2 separate regions of the Homo sapiens genome follow, and region 1 is linked to region 2. Evidence: fine-mapped QTL for protein levels in blood plasma. A gene starts in region 2. The other region holds a variant in brackets. All regions are shown on one strand. Distances are from middle to middle. Region 1 has its middle 8.6 kb from the start of LINC03078. Region 2 holds the start of CD177 (CD177 molecule).

What was found. PIP is the posterior inclusion probability: the model's chance that the variant is causal. Protein levels are from antibody-based Olink assays in UK Biobank. Linkage for the fine-mapping came from a reference panel and not from the study's own genotypes, which makes the PIPs less certain.
Region 1: its variant is fine-mapped to the plasma level of the CD177 protein (UK Biobank, PIP above 0.99).

The regions. Positions count from the first base shown.
Region 1 is chr19:43,317,678-43,328,210 of GRCh38, reverse strand. No RefSeq gene overlaps it. Among named protein-coding and RNA genes, the nearest start is that of LINC03078, 8.6 kb to the left of the region's middle. The variant G/A (reference allele first, on the strand shown) is at 6,160.
Region 2 is chr19:43,349,399-43,359,931 of GRCh38, reverse strand. It overlaps CD177 (CD177 molecule), which reads right to left and starts at 6,246. Exons shown (of 9, transcript NM_020406.4): 1 at 6,166-6,246; 2 at 5,939-6,079; 3 at 5,540-5,725; 4 at 4,149-4,271; 5 at 3,824-3,940. The coding sequence starts at 6,217. PRG1 (p53-responsive gene 1) reads right to left here. Exons shown (of 1, transcript NR_026881.1): 1 at 10,384-10,533.

The sequences.
Region 1 (10,533 bases), 32 kb after region 2:
CCCAACCTCTTATCTCTGCGCCCCAATCGCTTATTTCCATGCCCCAACCTCTTATCTCTGTGCCCCAATTGCTTATTTCCGCGCCCCAACCTGTTATCTCTGTGCCCCAATCCCTTACTTCCATGCCCCAACCTCTTATGTCTGCACCCCAATCCCTTATTTCCATGCTCCGACCCTTTCTCTGCTTTTCTGGTGGGCAAGAAACCCCCACCCCTTCTCCATGTCTCTACTCTTTTCTCTGGGCTTGCCTCCTTCACTATGGGCAAGCTTCCACCTTCCATTCCTCCTTCTTCTTCCTTAGCCTGTATTCTTAAGAACTTAAAACCTCTTCAATTCTCACCTGACCTAAAATCTAAGCATCTCATTTTCTTCTGCAATGCCGCTTGACCCCAATACAAACTGGACAGTAGTTCCAAATAGCCAGAAAACGGCACTTTCAATTTTTCCATCCTATAAGATCTAAATAATTCTTGTCGTAAAATGGGCAAATGGTCTGAGGTGCCTGACGTCCAGGCATTCTTTTACACATCAGTCCCTTCCTAGTCTCTGTGCCCAGTGCAACTCGTCCCAAATCTCCCGCCTGTCCCCTCAGTCCCAACCCCAAGCGTCGCTGAGTCTTTCTAATCTTCCTTTTCTACAGACCCATCTGACCTCTCCCCTCCTTGCCAGGCCAAGCTAGGTCCCAATTCTTCCTCAGCCTCCGCTCCTCCACCCTGTAATCTTTTTATTGCCTCCCCTCCTCACACCTGGTCCGGCTTACAGTTTCGTTCCGTGACTAGCCCTTCCCCACCTGCCTAGCAATTTACTCTTAAAAAGGTGGCTGGAGCTAAAGGCATAGTCAAGGTTAATGCTCCTTTTTCTTTATCCCAAATCAGATAGCGTTTAGGCTCTTTTTCATCAAGTATAAAAATCCAGCCCAGTTCATGGCTCGTTTGACAGCAACCCTGAGACGCTTTATAGCCCTAGACCCTAAAAGGTCAAAAGGCCATCTTATTCTCAATATACATTTTATTACCCAATCTGCTCCCGACATTAAATAAAACTCCAGAAATTGGAATCTGGCCCTCAAACCCCACAACAGGACTTAATTAACCTCACCTTCAAGGTGTGCAATAACAGAAAAAAGTTGCAATTCCTTGCCTCCACTGTGAGACAAACCCCAGCCACATCTCCAGCACACAAGAACTTCCAAACGCCTGAACCATAGCAACCAGGCGTTCCTCCAGAACCTCCTCCCCCAGGCGCTTGCTACACGTGCCGGAAATCTGGCCACTGGGCCAAGGAATGCCCGCAGCCTGGGATTCCTCCTAAGCCGCGTCCCATCTGTGTGGGACCCCACTGAAAATCGGACTGTTCAACTCACCTGGCAGCCACTCCCAGAGCCCAAGGAACTCTGGGCCCAAGGCTCTCTGACTGACTCCTTCTTGGCTTACCGGCTGAAGACTGACGCTGCCTGATCACCTCAGAAGCCCCGTAGACCATCACGGACGCCGAGCTTTAGGTAACTCTCACGGTGGAGGGTAAGTCCATCCCCTTCTTAATCAATACGGAGGCTACCCACTCCACATTACCTTCTTTTCAAGGGCCTGTTTCCCTTGCCTCCATAACTGTTGTGGGTATTGACAGCCAGGCTTCTAAACCTCTTAAAACTCCCCAACTCTGGCGCCAACTTAGACACTACTCTTTTAAGCACTCCTTTTTAGTTATCCCCACCTGCCCAGTTCCCTTATTAGGCTGAGGCACTTTAAGTAAATTATCTGCTTCCCTGACTATTCCTGGACTACAGCTATATCTCATTGCCGCCCTTCTTCCCAATCCAAAGCCTCCTTTGCGTCCTCCTCTTGTATCCCCCCACCTTAACCCACAAGTATAAGACACCTCTACTCCCTCCTTGGCGACTGATCATGCACCCCTTACCATCTCATTAAAACCTAATCACCCTTACCCCACTCAACGCCAATATCCCATCCCACAGCACGCTTTAAAAGGATTAAAGCCTGTTATCACTCGCCTGCTACAGCATGGCCTTTTAAAGCCTATAAACTCTCCTTACAATTCCCCCATTTTACCTGTCCTAAAACCAGACAAGACTTACAAGTTAGTTCAGGATCTGTGCCTTATCAACCAAATTGTTTTGCCTATCCCCCTTGTGGTGCCCAACCCGAACACTCTTTTGTCCTCAATACCTTCCTCCACAACTCACTATTCCGTGCTTGATCGTAAAGATGCTTTTTTCACTGTTCCCCTGCACCCCTCGTCCCCGCCTCTCTTTGCTTTCACTTAGACTGACCCTGACACCCATCAGGCTCAGCAAATTACCTGGGCTGTCCTGCCGCAAGGCTTCACAGACAGCCCCCATTACCTCAGTCAAGCCCAAATTTCATCCTCATCTGTTACCTATCTCGGTATAATTCTCACAAAAACACACGTGCTTTCCCTGCTGATCATGTCTGATTAATCTCCCAAACCTCAATCCCTTACAAAACAACAACTCCTTTCCTTCCTAGGCATGGTTAGTGTGGTCAGAATTCTTACACAAGAGCCAGGACCGCACCCTGTAGCCTTTCTGTCCAAACAACTTGACCTTACTGTTTTAGCCTAGCCCTCATGTCTGTGTGCAGCGGCTGCCGCTGCTTTAATACTTTTAGAGGCCCTGAAAATCACAAACTATGCTCAACTCACTCTCTACATTTCTCAACTTCCAAAATCTATTTTCTTCCTCATACCTGACGCATACACTTTCTGCTCCCCGGCTCCTTCAGCTGTACTCACTCTTTGTTAAGTCCCACAATTACCACTGTTCCTGGCCCGGACTTCAATCTGGCCTCCCACATTATTCCTGATACCACACCTGACCCCCATGACTGTATCTCTCTGATCCACCTGCTATTCACCCCATTTCCCTGTATTTCCTTCTTTCCTATTCCTCACCCTGATCACGCTTGATTTATTGATGGCAGTTCCACCAGGCCTAATCGCCACATACCAGCAAATGCAGGCTATGCTATAGTACAAGCCACTAGCCTGCCTCTCAGAACCTCTCATTTCCTTTCCATCGTGGAAATCTATCCTCAAGAAAATAACTTCTCAGTGTTCCATCTGCTATTCTACTACTCCTCAGGGATTATTCAGGCCCCCTCCCTTCCCTACACATCAAGCTCGAGAATTTGCCCCCACCCAGGACTGGCAAATTAGCTTTACTCAACATGCCCGAGTCAGGAAACTAAAATACCTCTTAGTCTAAATAGACACTTTCACTGAATAAGTAAAGGCCTTTCCTACAGGGTCTGAGAAGGCCACCACAGTCATTTCTTCCCTTCTGTCAGACATAATTCCTCAGTTTAGCCTTCCCACCTCTATACAGTCTGATAGCAGACCAGCCTTTATTAGTCAAATCAGCCAATTAGTTTTTCAGGCTCTTAGTATTCAGTGAAACCTTTATATCCCTTACGGTCCTCCGTCTTCAAGAAAAGTAGAACGGACTAAAGGTCTTTTAAAAACACACCTCACCAAGCTCAGCCACCAACTTAAAAAGGACTGGACAATACTTTTACCACTTTCACTTCTCAGAATTCAGGCCTGTCCTCAGAATGCTACAAGGTACAGCCCATTTAAGCTCCTGTATAGATGCTCCTTTTTATTAGGCCCCAGTCTCATTCCAGACACTGGACCAACTTAGACTGTGCCCCCAAGAAAACTTGTCATCCCTACTATTTTCTGTCTAGTCATATTCCTATTCTCCATTCTCAACTACTCACACATGCCCTGCTCTTGTTCACACTGCCAGTTTACACTGTTTCTCCAAGCCATCACAGCTGATATCTCCTCGTGCTATCCCCAAACTGCCACTCTTAACTCTTGAAGTAAATAAATAATCTTTGCTGGCAGGACTATGCTGAATCTCCTTAGGCACTCTCTAATCAGATGTCCTAGGTCCTCCCAATTCTTAGACCTTTTATACCTGTTTTTCTCCTTCTTATTCCATTTAGTTTTTCAATTCACACAAAACTGTATCCAGGCCATCACCAATCATACTATATGACAAATGTTTCTTCTAACAACCCCACAATATCACCCCTTACCACAAGATCTCCTTTCAGCTTAATCTCTCCCACTCTAGGTTCCCACCCGCCCCTAATCCCGCTTGAAGCAGCCCTGAGAAACATCGCCCATTCTCTCTCCATACCACCCCCCAAAAATTTTCGCCACCCCAACACTTCAACACTATTTTGTTTTATTTTTCTTATTAATATAAGAAGGCAGGAATGTCAGTCCTCTGAGCCCAAGCCAAGCCATCGCATCCCCTGTGACTTGCACGTATACGCCCAGATGGCCTGAAGTTACTGAAGAATCACAAAAGAAGTGAAAAGGCCCTGCCCCGCCTTAACTGATGACATTCCACCATTGTGATTTGTTCCTGCCCCACCTTAACTGAGTGATTAACCCTGTGAATTTCCTTCTCCTGGCTCAGAAGCTCCCCCACTGAGCACCTTGTGACCCCCGCCCCTGCCCACCAGAGAACAACCCCCTTTGACTGTAATTTTCCATTACCTTCCCAAATCCTATAAAATGGCCCCATCCCTATCTCCCTTTGCTGACTCTCTTTTCGGACTCAGCCCACCTGCACCCAGGTGAAATAAACAACCATGTTGCTCACACAAAGCCTGTTTGGTGGTCTCTTCACACGGACACGTATGAAAAGAAAGACATGAGATTTGAGAGAAACCAGGGAAAGAATGATATGTTTTGGATTTATATTCCCACTCAAATCTCATGTCAAGTTGTAATCTCCAAAGTTGTAGGTGGAGCCTGGTTGAAGGTGATTGGATTATGGGGATGGTTTCTCATGGTTTAACACCATTCCTCTTGGTGCTTTCCTAGTGACAGTGAGTTCTCAGGTGATCTGGTTAAGAGTGTGTAACCCTTGCTGTCTTCCTCCTGCTCTCACCTGTGAGATGCCTTGTTCTGCCTTGGCCTTCCACAATGATTGTAAGTTTCCCGAGGCCTCCTCAAAAGCTGAGCAAATGTGAGAGTCATGCCAAACCATGAGCCAATTCAACCTCTTTTCTTTATAAATTACCCAGTCTCAGGTATTTCTCAGTAGCAATGTGAGAACAAACAAATACAGCATTATTTTCAGGAGAGAAAAAACAGGAAGTAAGCAATTCTAACTAGTTACCAGGTGTAAAGCCCAAGATAAACAGCAAAGCTATGAAGATTATACCTGGAGAATCTAATCTCTTCCAGCATGGCCAAAAGGCACAGCTGTGGGATGGGATGAGTTTTGTCCCCAGTTCTTGCTATGGTCGCTCATCTAGAACTCAGAATCTAAAGGCTCAAATCTAAAGATATAAGGTCACAGAAAAATTAAGAAAATGTATATATACAGAAGCAACCATATGATGACCCTAAAACATCTAGTAAATACAATATAAAAATGTCTGCCAACAGACCCAGGCACAAATGTCTAAATTAAATCTGAAGACATTTCTACTTCATTTTACCAATAATTTTTAAACTATCTTTATTTACCAAAGATTACTAAAATCACATGTATTGAAAAGCATTTGGGATTATTTACTTAATTTATGAGTACTTATTTTTACATTAATTTGATACCATGTATGTAAACAACATATAATCATATGTATGGACATAGACATATATGTGATACAGCATATAACATACACATGTGCACATAAAGATAGAGGGAGGCAGAAAGAGTTTAGAGTTTTGATTTCAGCATAGGACCGATCAAATTCAGTATTTAAAAAAGACAGTTGGATTAAATTTGTGCCTTTGTAAATGGAAGAGGTTAACATTTAATTAAGCCAGACTTTATTGAGTTTTAGAGAAAATTGGTAGCAAATTTACATCTCAAAGCACAGAGAGAAAGAGAACTAAAGCTTTTACAAGAAGGAATTTGTGTGTGTTCAAGGAAGATTAAAAATAGATGCCAAGGTAACACAAAAATGACAGAAATTTACCATAGGATTTTATAAGGAGACCAATTTTATTTAGATAGGCAGCTTTTAATTTGGTCTCTGTTTTCCAACTGGACCACTGAGCTCAGGACAGAGCCCATTAAGGAAGAGGACCAACGAAGTCTTGCAACTTTTAGATCCTAATAATTTAAATACATAAAAAGAAGACCCAGTT[G/A]CAAGGGACAGCATCCAGACCTTTATAAATCAAGGATTTCACTGAATCCCAGGTCCCTGAGAAGAGGAAAATGCCAATGGAACCATACTATGCAACACTTCCACAGTGTACTTTGCTATAAGGGCATTTTTCTAATTATTTAAACTGTGTATTTCTTATCTAAACTTGCAAAGAAATGAGTAGCATTCTGAAGTAATAATCATTTATTGCGAGCGCTGTTAGTCACCTCCAAAACCAAAGCTCTTACCAGTGACCCAGCAGCCATCACACATATAAGGTCAAGCATTTTTACAGTGCAAAGTAATCTCTGATGCCCCCAAAAGCCAAAGAGGTCAGGGAAAATGGAAAAGAGAGCAGAGTTTTAGACCTGAGAGGAATCCATTTACTTACAACTCTTGGGGTTCCATGAGGAAAAACAGTGGTTTCTCCTAAATAGGGAAGTCTGTGGCATCTTTTCTGTTTTCCTTAAGGGGTTCCAGGCTGTCAGAAATTCTTTAGGTTCCCTCATGTGGCATCAAGAATAGCAAGAGGAAGGATGGAAAGAGAAATAAGCAGAAAAAGAATTTTTAAGAAAAAAACCAGACAGACTAAGCACATGATTTAAAAAGATTTCAGTCAACTGAAAAAAAATCTTTCAAAGATACAAAAGAGATGGCCAGAGGCAGTGGCTCACATCTGTAATGGCAGCACTTTGGGAGACTGAGGCGGGCAGATTACTCAAGGCCAGGAGTTCAAGACCAGCAACATGGCGAAACCCAGTCTCTAGTAAAAATACAAAAATCAGTCAGGTGTGGTGGCACGTGCCTGTAATCTCAGCTGCTCAAGAGGCTGAGGCCCAAGAATCCCTTGAACCCAGGAGGTGGAGGTTGCAGCGAGCTGAGATTGTGCCACTGCACTTAAGCCTGGGTGACAGAGTGACAGCCTGTCTCAAAAAAAAAAAAAGATACAAAAGAGAAAAGCAGAAAAGCCTTCAATATACATTCAAGTCCTTTCTCAATATATATCCAATATGAATTTATATATTCTGTGTATATACATATTCTATATATATATAATATTTTATATATATATTATTTTAATATATACATGGCTTAATATTATAAATATTAATAATTATATGGCTTAAATACCATTAATAAATATATGGCTTAAATACCAGTTTTTAATTAAGCTGACTCTTAATCACAGAGCTGTTTTGGGAAATCCTTCTCTTAGCTGCCAAACATAGCTGAGAAATGACACCAAAGCATGTTAGCAGCAGTGAATCTGTAGACGTCTTCAGCAACCTCAATTCTTGCCTCTTTAGAAGAAGTAATTTGACTAAGAGGCATAAGGCAGAAGAAGGGACTGAGGTAAGTGTTAGAGCAGGAGTAAAAGTTTATTTAAAAGCTTTAAGGCAGGAATTAAAGGAAGTAAAGTACAATTAAAAGAGAGTCAAGCAGGCTGGATACAGTGACTCACACTTGTAATCCTAGCACTTTGGGAGGCCGAGATGGGTAGATCACCTGAGGTCAGGAGTTTGAGACCAACCTGGCCAACATGGTGAAATTTCGTCTCTACCAAAAATACAAAAATTAGCTGGGTGTGGTAGCATGTGCCTGTAGTCCCAGCTACTAGGGAGGCTGAGGCGGGAGGATCATTTGAACCTGGGAGGCGAAGGTTGCAGTGATCTGAGATCATGCCACTGCACTCTAGCCTGGGTGACAGAGCAAGACTCTGTTGCAAAAAAATAAATAAATAAAAATAAAAAAATAAAAAAGCCAAGCAGGCAACAAGAGATCAAGTGCATTGCTTGACCTCTGACTTAGGCTTTTGTATGTTGGCATAATTCTGGGGTCTGCATCTCCTCTCCCCTTATTTTCCCTTTGGAGTGGGCTGTCTGCATGTGCAGTGGCCTGCTAGCACTTGGGGTGGGGTGAACATGCGCAGTGTATTTACTGGAGTTGTATGCATGCTCACTTGAGGTGTTCTTCTCTTTCCAGTCAAATGTCCCTGGGAGGTCACAAACCAGTTAAACTCCACCATTTTGCCTCTTAATGCACATGTTTTAGCCCACTCACCCAACTTCTGAGAACTTATCAGGAAGGAGCTGATCAACTGTTTCAGGTGTTTCCTGTCTATTGGGAGACTGCCTTTCCCTGGTGCTAGCTACAACCCATTATTATTTTAGAGAGACAGTTAACGACCACCTGACAATCACCTGATGGTCATGACATTCCTGGTGTGTGGGGGAAGGAGGCTCCCTCCTGTCCTGCTGATGTCTGACTAGCTACCCACTGTAATACTTTCAGATTTTTTATTATCAGATTTTAGCTAGGACAAACAGCTGATATTTCTGGCTTTTGAATTTTTTTTTAACCAAAAGTATCCTCCCAGCTGAAACTGATAAGCACTAACCATAATTGTGACTTAGCCAAGGATGCATGAGACATCTCCAAAGATGTAAATGAGTACCACAAAAACTCAAAAATCACACAAATATCAAAACAAAAGTGGCAGAGGCATTTGAAGTAGAGTGACTCCATCTTGAGTGAGGGCTGGGAAAATGAGGCTGGGACTTGTTGGGCTGCATTTCCAGAAAGTGAGGCATTCCTAGCCTCTAGATGTTTATGGTTAAGGGAACAAATCAATAATATTTACTAAACAGACCCAGACTTGGGAGTGTCCAGATATCCCAATATCTGGAAAACAAAGTGATTCCTAATTTTGCTTTAAAGATAATAACTTAGATTCTTGCAAAATATCACAATTAAGAAAATTAATCCTTATCACAAACCTTTGTAGCAGGGTACATCTCCCCATATATATGAGCACTGTACCTAGGGTGGGTGTGTGCCTCCTCTTACTTTCAAGAACATCCTACTGTGACTATGGAGTAGCTGTACTTTCACTACTTTACTTTCTTAATAAACTTGCTTTTACTTTGCGCTGCAGACTTGCCCTGAATTCTTTCTCGTGCAAGATCCAAGAATCCTCTCTTTGGGCATGGATTGGGACCTTTTTCCTGTAACAAAAGCGGTTCATTCTCTGACTTGTAATTGAATCCAGGCTGCAACAGTGAAAGTGTGGAATTTTAACTACTGGATGACATGGTGAAGTGGCTTTAATCCTTATTGCCTCAGGAGATCTAAAGCAAGTCATTTGAGATTACAAAAAACTTAACTTTGTTTAAGGCTAGATTTTTGCTCTGTAAGTTAGTCAAGAGAATATTTAAGGCTAGCCGTGACACTATTATGTGTCTTTCTTTAAAATTTGATTCTCCTCAAACTATCTTGGCAAAATTATGACTGAGACAGTGAAAGAGATCTAACCTAACCTAATGAACACCGTCTTGCTTCTAACCTCCAAGCTGTCCTTGTTCGGTCCTGGGCATAGGCTGAACTAACTTTAATAGGAATTTAGTTTACAGTTTAAAACAAAGACGATAACAGCCCTTTCCCAAAACGAACCTCCTTCTTGCCTGGGGACAAGACTGCCTTTGTGGGACTAACAAATTAGCCACAAGATTAGAAATTACGGTTTAAGAGTCATGCAGCTGGAGGCTACAAGATTCTGACCCTCTCTAAACTGCTCCTGAGATCTGTCTGAGCTATTTGGCAGACCCTGCACTTGATGGATGGATGAGCTGGCCCCACCCAGATCGATAAAATGGGTCATTTGATCTTGTGACCTCTACTCAGGAACTGACTCAGCAAAAAAGGACAGCTTCAACTTCCCATGATTTCATCTCCTACCTAACCAATCAGCACTCATGCTACATCAGCTGACATTAAAATTACTTAGATATACAATTTGAATGAACGTCATGGTCTAAGTCAAATTACCTATGATAACCCATCAGTTATCAGTGCTATGCACATAATTTGAAGAAAAACTATGATTCAAGAGGATATGAGTCTAATATTAATTAAGCATGGACTCATGGAGAACCAGGATGGCCACCTTGTCCTTCCTAAGTCCTTAAAGCTTTTATTATTAAAAGTTCTGCATTCCATGACTCATCATGGAAAAGATAAAAATATTCAAATGGAATATATTGGTGTGGTGACTTATAAATTGTTAAAAGAATTTATAACCAATGTTTGGCCCCATATTCCTGGGAAAACAATCAAAGCTTCAGGTACACTTGGTCACCTGCTGGTCCATTTAAACATTTTATAATGAGATTTCATTCAATTGTTATTTTCAATGCATATTTTCTGGTTCTGGTTGTATAAAAGCTCTCCCATGCAAGAGGGCTCATGTTATCTACTAAGTTATTATGTTACAGTGTATTTTCACCAGATAAAGAAAACTTTCTATAGTTCACTAAAGATAATCAACGCATTCACAACCTAGAATCCAGAAGTAGAATTGCTGGATCAAGTAGTAATT
Region 2 (10,533 bases):
AAGGAAGGCAGCCTGAGACCTTTCTCATACCTTTCAGTTGCAAAGCCCTATGTTCCAAACAAGATGCGAAGGGCCAGGGTGGGCTGAGCACTGCCGCTGAGCACTGCCTCTGCACCTGGCTGACCTCATTGCTTCCCACAGATCCACCCATCTAAGGTTCCAGGGAACACAGCTTATCTGGGATGCCTCATTTCCCCACAGCACCCCAGCAGTAGGTGGTGTGATCACAATCAACACCCTCATTTGCAACAAGGGAAACAGAGGCAGGATTGCTCAGTAGCTGCCCATGCCACACAGCTTGTGAGTGGCAGAGGTAGGCTGGGAACCCAGGGACTCTGGACCCTCAGGGTCGGGGTTGGGAGCAGGAGGGAGACAGGTACTGAAGACCATCCTCGGCTACCTTGGCCCCGAGGCCCTCAAGGCTCTAGTGTGAAACCACAGCCCCTGGCCTCCCCTCACGGCCATCACAGAGCAGGGGGGATCGGTCCCATGATGCAGGGACTCTTAGACTGAGCCCCCAGCTTCCACCAACACATGCGACCTGCAGAACCGATGCCACCCTGGAGGGCTGCTCATTTGCATACTTCACAGATGACAAAATCAAAATCATGGCTCCTGCTCCCTTCTCCCACCCTTCTCTCCCCACTCCCATCTCCCCTACTTACACCCGTGGCGGCTCGTTTCTGCCAGTCTAGCTGAACACATTGGTGTTGTCCTTGACCACGCTCTTTCTCTCCCACATTGTGTTCCTCAAGTAATCCTACTGGCTTGAGCTGCAGAAAATCTTCAAAACCCAACCCCACGTCACCACCTCTGCTGCCTCCAAGCCCCCCGCTTCACTCCCACCTGACTCCTGGGGCAATCCCTGCACCCGCCTGTCACTGTTCCTCTCGCTCCATTCTCCACCCAGCAGGCAGAGGGAGGCTAGGTAAACCTAAGTCAGTTCATGTCACTCCTCTGCTCCGAAGACTCCAGGAGGTCCCCATTCTGGAGAATAAAATTCTAAGCCCTTCCAATGGCCCGGGAGGCCTGATAAGACGCGGCCGCCTCCCTGCTCCCTCCATCACTCTGCTCCGCACAGGTGTTTCTGGCAGGCACTCACCCACATCATGGTCTTTGCATCTGCTTCCGTCCCATGTCTGCAACCATCCCCTCCTCTTCCCCAAATCCAGGGAAAGAGGCTCCATGAGATATGGAGACTTTTGATCCTCGTGTGAAGCTGAGGCTGGAAAGCTGTTTCGGCGGCAGAGCTGGGCCTGGGACCCACGTGTCCCTGATTCAGACGTGGGCTCTTCCCTGCTCTCTCACTGGGACCGCTGCCCAGCTCCTCTAGGGGCAGCCAGGGCCTTATCTGCCCGGGCCCCTTGGTTCTTCACAAGGGGCTGCTGCCATGGCCCCTTTTAGTAACCTGCATCCTTGCACCCAGCCCTCCCACTGCTGCGGCTTCTTATAAGCGGTTCCATCACCCTGAAGCCTCTTCTCTCCTGCACTTGGTCCCCAACGTCTTGTTGTTCCCCCAGTTTCTGATGCCTGGTCTTGTGATGCTCACTGTCTGCTAAACTGCTGAACTGCACTTCACCAGGGAGGCAAAACAGCCTGCAAGATCTGGCTCCAGTGTTGAAAGCAGATGAATCTCTATGAACAGCACTGATTGGTGCATAGTCGCTGTGTTTTATGTGGTGCGTTTGTGTAGTGTGTGCACATGCGTGATGTGTGCAGGTATGTGTGCTGTGTGTGAGTGCGTAGTATACATGTGGGGGGTGTGGTTGTATGGGGTGTGTGGTGTGTTCATGGTATGTTTGTGTGGTGCGTGCATGTGTAGACATACTGTGTGTGATATATGTGGTATGTGTTTGTTTTGTGTGTTTGGTGTGGTGTGTGTTCTGTGTATCTGTGTTTTGCTTGCATGTGGTGTGTGTGGCATGCCAGATGTGTTGTGTGTATTGTGTGTTGTGTGTGGTATGTATTGCATGTCTGATATGTTGAGAGGGAGAGTGTGTGTGGTACCTGACGTGTAGTATGTGGCATACACACTACATGTACACGTAGTAATTGTGCACTCGTGTGATGCATTTGTGTGTGTTGTGCATATTGTGTGCTCTGTGTGTGATTTGTGTTCCATAGGTGGTATGTCAGGGGTATGGGGGAGTGTGTGTGTGGTATGTGATGTGTGGTGTGTATGTGTCATGGTGTGACGCATTCGTGTCTGCTGTGCTTATTGTGGGCTGTGTGTGTGGCATGTGTTGCGTCTGATTTGTTTCTGAAATACCTTCTGGGTTATCAGTGTCATCTGGTCCCAGAGACCAGGGCCAGATCCTTAACAGCAGCATCAGTCAAAAGGAAAGATAAATGGCTCAGACCCTGCCCTCCCTGCTCCACAATCTTCCATGGCTCCCCTGCCTTCAGGAGAGGGTCCACCCCTCAGCCTGGGTTTTCAGGTACTTGAGCGACCACCAGGTTCCCCACTTAACTCTTCCTCCCCCACCAGTATCCATTCTGAAGGCATGCCAGTTCATTTCCTCCTCAGCCTCACACCTGCTGTGCCTTTGGCTTGGAGCAGCTCCCTCTTCGACCCCACACCCACCTTGTCCACCTGGAAAACTTCGAATCACCCCCAATCCCAGCTGTACCCCCTCATCTTGATGAGTCCTTCTCAGGTGGAGTGAGGGACTCTTCTTGAAAACAGCAGGCTCACTCCCACCTCCAGGCCTATGCAGCTGCTACACACTGTTCCCTCTGCCACCAATGTCCTCTTCCTCTTCTACCAATAAGCTGTAGGTCATCTTTAACACACGGTTCACAGGCCACCTCCTCTGTAAAGCCCTCCTTGACTCTCTACCCCAACAACATCAGTATTTTCCTCCTCTGAGCTGCCCCAGGCCCCACATCCCCGTTTGCCACAGCCCTGATCACCTCAAGCTGTGACCATCTGTGTCTGTAGCACCTCCCCCTCCTAGTCCTGGAGGCCCTTCAGGTAGAAACAGGGTCTGACTCATGAGGGAGCTTTGCTCAAGTGAGCCCTGCATGTCCTCACTTGAGCAAACACCTCCTGGTACCCTTCCTGAGCCGTCTCCTGAGCTACCCAAGGCTGGAAACCCTGGTGCCAGTGGTACCAAGCCCCTAGCCTCAGGCTCCCAGCCTAGCTAGGGAGAAACAGCCAAATACACAGAGGAATGTGTGCAGAGCTCACACAACTCTCTCTTCTAAGCTCTAAGGGTTAGCGTGATGTGGGCAGACAAGGAAACTGAGGCAGGGGCAGGGAAGACTTTGCTTCTAGGAGGGAAGCTGGGATTCCTATAAGACCCCCACCTCCCCACCATGGCTTCCTGTTGCTTTGGAGCCCTTCTTATGGAGACATTCCCTGGCACTCTCTTCCATGGCAGCACCTAAATGGGTAAGTGGGGACCCTCTCAGTGTCCTCCTTTAACTCTTGCTTTCTCTGTCACACCCAAAGTCCCCTTGATTTTCTCTCTGATGTTCTCTCCTGTGCAGGCAAGGCTGCTGGGGCACTCCAGCACCATGAGCGGGGCGGGGGCTGATACGGGTGGGAGAGAGGCTACGGTGGCCTAGGGAAGTGGGAGACCTAGGGTTACCCAAGGCCAGGGGTGTGGAGACACAGAAATTGAAGCAACCAGTCACTCTCAGCAGCTTGAGAGCCAGCAGGGGCCCCAGCACTCACTGTTGCCTAAAGCCACATGCCAAGCAACCCACCCTGCACCCTTGACCTTCCTCCTGCTGGCTTTGGTGTGATGGCTCTGGATGCCCCATGTGTCATCGTGCCCCGAGGCTGCAGTCCAGGGCACAGCCTAGGGGCAGGACTCACCTTTCATATCGCAGTTCTCAGTCATACCCACGGGCCCAATTTCCTGTGTCCCATTGAGCAGGTTGCAAACTGGCTGGGGCATGCATCCCTGGACTCTCAGATTGGAGAAGATGCCTCCTGCAGAAAGGGGGAGCGAGGGAGAGTCAGTGATGCTGCCTCCAGGACCACCCAACCCTCAGAGGCAGGCATAGCTCCAGGAAGCCAGGCCCACCCTCCTCTGGGTCTCATGCCGTGCCTCAGCTCACCTCACTCCCCAAAGCCTAAGATCTCAGTCCCCAGACCTTCCAGTTCAGTCCCCACAGGGACCCCGATGTCCCAGGCTTACCTCCCCTGAGCCTGAGGAGGCCATCATAACAGTGTGTGGTCCCCTTGGGGCAGATCTCTTCTGTTGTCCCCTCCAGACAGCCTTCCATAGACAAGCAGACTGGGCACCTCAAGGATCCTGGGTCTAGGAAAGTGACAGACAGAGTGAGGGGGCACTGAGAGGGCACTGGATTTGATCAGATACCTTCTCTGCACCCCACTTTTGCTGGCCTCAAGAGTCAACCTGCTCAGCCTTCCCAAAGGGGCCTTCTGCAGCTCCCATCATGGGATCTGGATGTGGGAAAATAAAGAAGTGTAATCCATAAAAGAGGAAGGGAGAATGAACAGGAGGTCTGGGTAGAGGCACCCAGGGCTGGGTACAGAAAGTGGTCTTGGCTGGGTGTGGTGACTCACACCTGTAATCCCAGCACTTTGGGAGGCTGAGGCAGGTGGATCACGAGGTCAGGAGTTCAAGACCAGCCTGGGCAACATAGTGAAACCCTGTCTCTACTAAAAATACAAAAATTAGCCGGGCGTGGTGGCAGGCTCCTCTAGTCCCTGCTACGTGGGAGGCTGACGCAGGAGAATCGCTTGAACCCGGGAGTCGGAGGTTGCAGTGAGCCGAGATTGCGCCACTGCACTCCAGCCTGGTCGACACAGCGAGACGCTTTCTCAGAAAAAAAAAAAAAAAAAAAAAAAAAGAAAAGAAAAGGGGGGGTGTCTTGGGTGGCAAGTGGGGGTGGGGGGTGGGCAGGGTGGAGGAGGGGCCTGCTGAGGCCAAATGTAGACTCAGACATGGTCAAGTCTGAACCTTTCAACAAAGTCTGGCCTTCCGAGGGGAGACACAGAAGCAGACTCATTGGTCAAGGGAATGAGGGGGTGCCCTGGAACGAGCCAGTGCCTTCACCTGCAAGCGCTACTAAACCTCCAAGAACAGGAGACTTCTGTGTTCACAAGCTGTTCCAATAAAAGAAGCGCAAAATATCTCCCTAGACTCTTTATAACACCAGACAAGGAAAGTGGAAAGTTACAGTTCAGTCTCCCTTAGGAAGAGGAAATAGCAAAAACCCTGCAGGAGAACTTCTTGAACCAAACGCAACAGAATAAAAAAAGAATGCAGGATAACCCAGTTAATGGTGATTTCATATCAGAAATCCGTCCTGTTTGCTCTTAGAAGAGGAGGGGTGCGGGGATTCCCGGGTGGCAGGTCGGTGGGAGGGATCGGGAGTGAGTGGGGAGGGATGGAAAGGGAGCGGGGCGGGGCGATGGTCAGGGAGCAGTCAGGGGAGGGATGGAGCCAGCGAGGGTCGGGATAGCGAGCGAGGGTGGGAGGGACTCCGTAACAGCCCCTCTGTGCTCAGCGGATCCCCTTCTAGCAGCCCCTCCCTCTCCTCCCGACCCTCCCGCAGGCACCTGCTGGGGGCTGTGGGGCCCAAAGCGGGAGGGAGTTAACGAGGTTGTTGCAGAAGTCCTCCTGGCGGCACACGAAGGTGTAGGAGATCAGGGAGAGGCCGGGGCCCATCCGGTGCTCAGTGACGCGGGGCTCCTGGTCCTTGGCCTCCGTGCAGCCCTTGGAGAGCACCAGGCTCACTTGGGGTCCTGGACCGAAAGAGGGAGGCAAGCGAGGATGGAGGTCAGGCCTCCAGGGTCCTGGAGGGAGACGCTGCTACACGGCGTAGGCTGAGAGGCTGGAAAGGGGATCACCGGGACCCTAGGAGTCGATCCCCCGGAGGGGTGGCTCCCGGGTCCCTGCACAGGGATCAAGGGACTGAGGGGACAGGGCGGGGTCTCTGCACGCCAGGGCCTTCTCACCGCTCTCAATGAGCATCAACGTGTCCTGGCACCCCAAGCCGCTGTCGCAGCTGGTGTTCTTAGGGGTCCATTGCCGGGGCAGGTCGGACACCTTCCACACATGCTGAACTGTCCCAAACTGGCAGAGCAGCGCCTGCACTCCTGGAGTGGCAAGAGCAAATCCATCTCAGCAGGGTTCCCTTGCCCGGCCTCCAGGGAATCTCCTCCAGGCTGGGCTCATCACTCACCTGGCAGTGGGAGGATGAACCCCAGGAGGGCCAGCAGTAATACCGCGCTCATGACCCGTCTGTGGCTGGTAATCTCTTTCTGCTTTTTCAGCAGGAAACAAGTCCTTTATACCAGCCCTTAAGCAGCCAGCCCAGAAAAGGGTGGGGAGGGGAGGGCCTTGCAAAATGGAGGCTTGGGCCCCACCCCAAGTCTCAATGGCCGCAGTGGCCTATCAGGGACCCCCTTTCTTCCTCAGACCTTCGGGTCCAGGCATCCAGCCCCTCCTCCCTCAGATGGAGGGTCCAGGACCCCCAGCCCCTCAGCCCCTCCTCCTTCAGACCCAGGAGTCCAGACCCCCAGCCCCTCCGCCCTCAGACCCAGGAGTCCAGGCCCCCAGTCCCTCCTCCCTCAGACCCAGGAGTCCAGGCCCCCAGTGCCTCCTCCCTCAGACCCAGGAGTCCAGCCCCCCAGCCCCTCCTCCCTCAGACCCAGGAGTCCAGGCCCCAGGCCTCCCTCTCTCAGACCCAGGAGTCCAGGCCCCGAGGCCCTCCTCCCTCCGACCCAGGAGTCCAGACCCCCAGGCCCTCCTCCCTCAGACCCAGGAGTCCAGGCCCCCAGGCCCTCCATAGTTAGAAACTGTGGCATCTTGACCCGAGGTTCCCCCGGTCCAGACTCCCAGCCCTCTTTCCTCCTGAGCCCAGCTATGTGGATCACCACCCCCACCCTCTTTCTCCAGTAGTTTGGGAAGGCAGTTTCCTCATTTCTCATGGGCTCCCTGGCCACCTCTGTACCCCAGATGGGGAAATGGCCCAACTACCTGTGAGGACGTTGTGCAGTGGGCATCAGCTTGTCCCCATGTCTTCCGGTCCTAGTTTCTACCCTCCACTGTCTTCCCACTTCTCTGTTCTTTCTCTTTCCTTCTTATATTGCTTTCTTTTGATTCTTCTTTTCATGCTTTTCTCTCATGCTTTCTCTTCTATTCTCTACCCTCACAGTACAACATAGGACTCAAGTCCCCAGTTTCCTACCACCAGGAAAGGCTTGGCCAGAGGTGGAGTAGAGACTGAATATCTATGAAAGAATTAGGATATATCTGAAAAATGCAACATTTATTTGCTGGAAGCCGATGGGAGAGCAGTGTTGTGCTGAAAAACCAAGTTTTCTGAAAAACAATACCCACAAATCCTGCCTCGTAGTGTTGGCCTATTTCTCTGGTGTAAATACTCATAGCATGTCTGATTTTAAGCTACCTACAGTTTGCCAACCAGGCTGATGAAATCCCTAGCTATTTAACCATGGGCTTGTCCAGGGCTGTACAAATCAGCTGTAACACACTGGGGTGGCGGGGAGGAAGACAGGAAGGAACCTGGGGTATCTGTCAGTGACTGCAGAGGGACGTTGTGGGTGTCTGTGACGGAGAGAGGAGAAGCAGAAGAGGGAAGGCGAGAGCAGGAATAGCAGAGAAAGAGAAATGAATGTGACTTGCAATTATATGTTTATTTTTGACATCTCTATAAATTTTATCTTTATTTGTCTTTGCAAGTTTATTGCAAGTTTAATATTTGCCACACAGACAGGGAAGTGTTTGTCTGATCTCCTGCTATGTCTCCACCACCTACATGGCATACAGTACATGCCCAGTAATTTTTTTTTTTTTTTAGAAACAGAGTCTTGCTCTCACCTATGCTGGAGTACAGTGGTGCAGTTGTAGCTCACTGCAGGTCACTACAGCCTCCATCTCCTGGACTCAAGCAACTCTCCCACCTCAGCCTCCCGAGTAACTGGGACTACAGGTGCACACCACCATGTCTGGTTAATTTTTGTATTTTCAATAGAGACAGGGTTTCACTATGTTGTTCAGGCTGGTCTCAAACTCCTGACCTGCGGTGTTTTCATTTTGAAAAATTTCAGGCTGGGAGCGGTGACTCATACCAGTCATCCTAGCACTTTGGGAAGCCAAGGCGGGTGGATCTATTGAAGTCAGGAGATTGAAACCAACCTGGACAACACGGTGAAACCCCATCTCTACTTAAAAAAAAAATACAAAAATTAGCCCGGTGTAGTGGCAGCCACCTGTAGTCCCAGCTACTCCGGAGACTGAGACAGGAGAATCGCTTGAACCCAAGAGGCAGAGGTTGCAGTGAGCCGAGATCGCACCACTGCACTCCAGCCTGGGCAACAGAGTAAGACTCCATCTCAAAAAAAAAGACGGAAAAATTTCAAACCGGCAGAAAAGTTGCAAGGATAGTACAGTGAACACAAGTATCCCCTTCACTGGATTCACCCACTCTTCACATTTTATTGTATCTGTTTATACACACACAACATATGCTTTTAAAATATTCTTAAATTTTAAAAACAAGGAGTAGACATTGTAACTCTCACCACTAAGTGCTTCAGCAAGAACCTTCTTAAGATTATTCTTAAGGGGGCTGGGCACAGTGACTCACACCTGTAATCCCAGCACTTTGGAAGGATCACTTTAAGTCAGGAGTTCAAGACCAGCCTGGCCAACATGGTGAAACCCCATCTCTACTAAAAATATAAAAATTAGCTGGACATGGTGACACACAACTGTAATCCCAGCTACTTGGGAGGCTGAGGCAGGAGAATCACTTGAAGCTGGTGGTGGAGGTTGCAGCAGTGAGCCGAGATCACACCACTGCACTCCAGCCTGGGTGACAGAGCCAGGCTCCATCACAAAAAATAAATAAATAAAAAAATTTTTAAAAAGCATATATCATTCTTTTTTTTCCTCTCTCTCTCTTTTTTTTTAGATGCAGTTTTGCTCTCTCACCCAAGCTGGAGTGAAGTGTCGTGATCTCTGCTCACTGCAACCTCCGCCCTCCAGGTTCAAGCAATTCTCCTGTCCCAGCCTCCCGAGTAGCTGGGATTACAGGCGCCTGCCACCACGTCCGGCTAATTTTTGTATTTATAGTAGAGACAGGGTTTCACCATGTTGACCAGGCTGGTCCTGAGCTCTTGACCTCAGGTGATCCACCTGCCTCGGCCTCCCAAAGTGCTAGGATTACAGGTGTGAGCCACCACGCCCAGCCTATATAGATTATTCTTAAGGACTTTGTCCTGCGTAACCACAGACCAGGATCAGACCCGTGTAGTTTACACAGATGCACTGTTGTCTAATAGGAAGCCCATTTCCAGTTTTCCTCTGTTGTCCCAATGACATCTCTCATTGCGTTTTTGCTTTCTGATCAGGAGAACATCCGGGGTCAAGCATGAACTGCACTGCGTTGTCTTTATGAAAGAGAAACAAAAACTCAGGACCCCAATTCACTGTGACAGAAGGAAAAAAAAAAAACTGGAAGCTGAGTCATGCAAGAAACTGCCTTTCCTTTTGTTCCTAAGCAGACAGCTACAGAGAAAAGGTTAAGTATCTCCGTAGGTAGCTACTCTATGTTCATCTTATCTTTCTTTAAAAAAATTTTTACTTATTTATTTTTTTTTGAGAGAGTATCATACTTTGTCTCCCAAGCTGGGGCGCAGTGGCACGATCTTGGCTCACTGCGACCTCTGTCTCCCGGGCTCAAGTCATTCTGTCACCTCAGCCTCCCGTGTAGCTGGGACTACAGGCACCCACCACCGCGCCCAGCTAATTTTTGTGGTTTTTTTTGTAGAGATGGGTTTTGCCATGTTGTCCATGCTGGTCTCAAGTTCCTGGGCTCATGAGATCCTCCCACCTCAGCCTTTCAAAGTGCTGGGATTACAGGTGTGAGCCACCACGCCCGGCCATATTCACCTTATCTTTCTCAAGGTGCCAATTTACTGAGCGTGAGATGAATACGTGATTGATTATTCCCCTACCTCCTGCTTTCTCTTACACCATGTGGATTCAGTAATGCGACCACACCCTCCTTCTTTCACCGCCAGCCAGCTTTTCCACCCTAAATATTGAAGTCCTCAAAATTATCTTTGGAAAAAGGCACAGACCACAGACTGTTTCTATGATTGCATGGTTTTTTCTATGTCCTTAACCTTGGCAAAATAAGCTTCTAAGTTGATGGAGACCTGTCTCAGATACCTTTTGGTTTACATCTCATCTCTGGACTCCCCTTTAATCTAGGAGTGCTCCCCACCTGCCTTTCATTTTCTTTAATGTCATTGAAAGCAATGGTTCACTTCTTTTTTTTTTGTAAAGTCTTCCACCACCTGGATGTGTCTGACTCAGACTATGATTAGAGTAGTTTTAATGATTTTTGGCAATATTCTTCTAGCTGGGTGTCGTGTGTCACATTCAGAAGGCCTTTAATGCCTGTTTGTCAAATTCTTGGCTAATTAACAACTGCTGTGTGAGGTAAGCCATGGAGGAGGCTGTGTGAATGTCCTATTCCCCACCACGAGACCCTTCTGTCTCCTTGCACACATTGTGC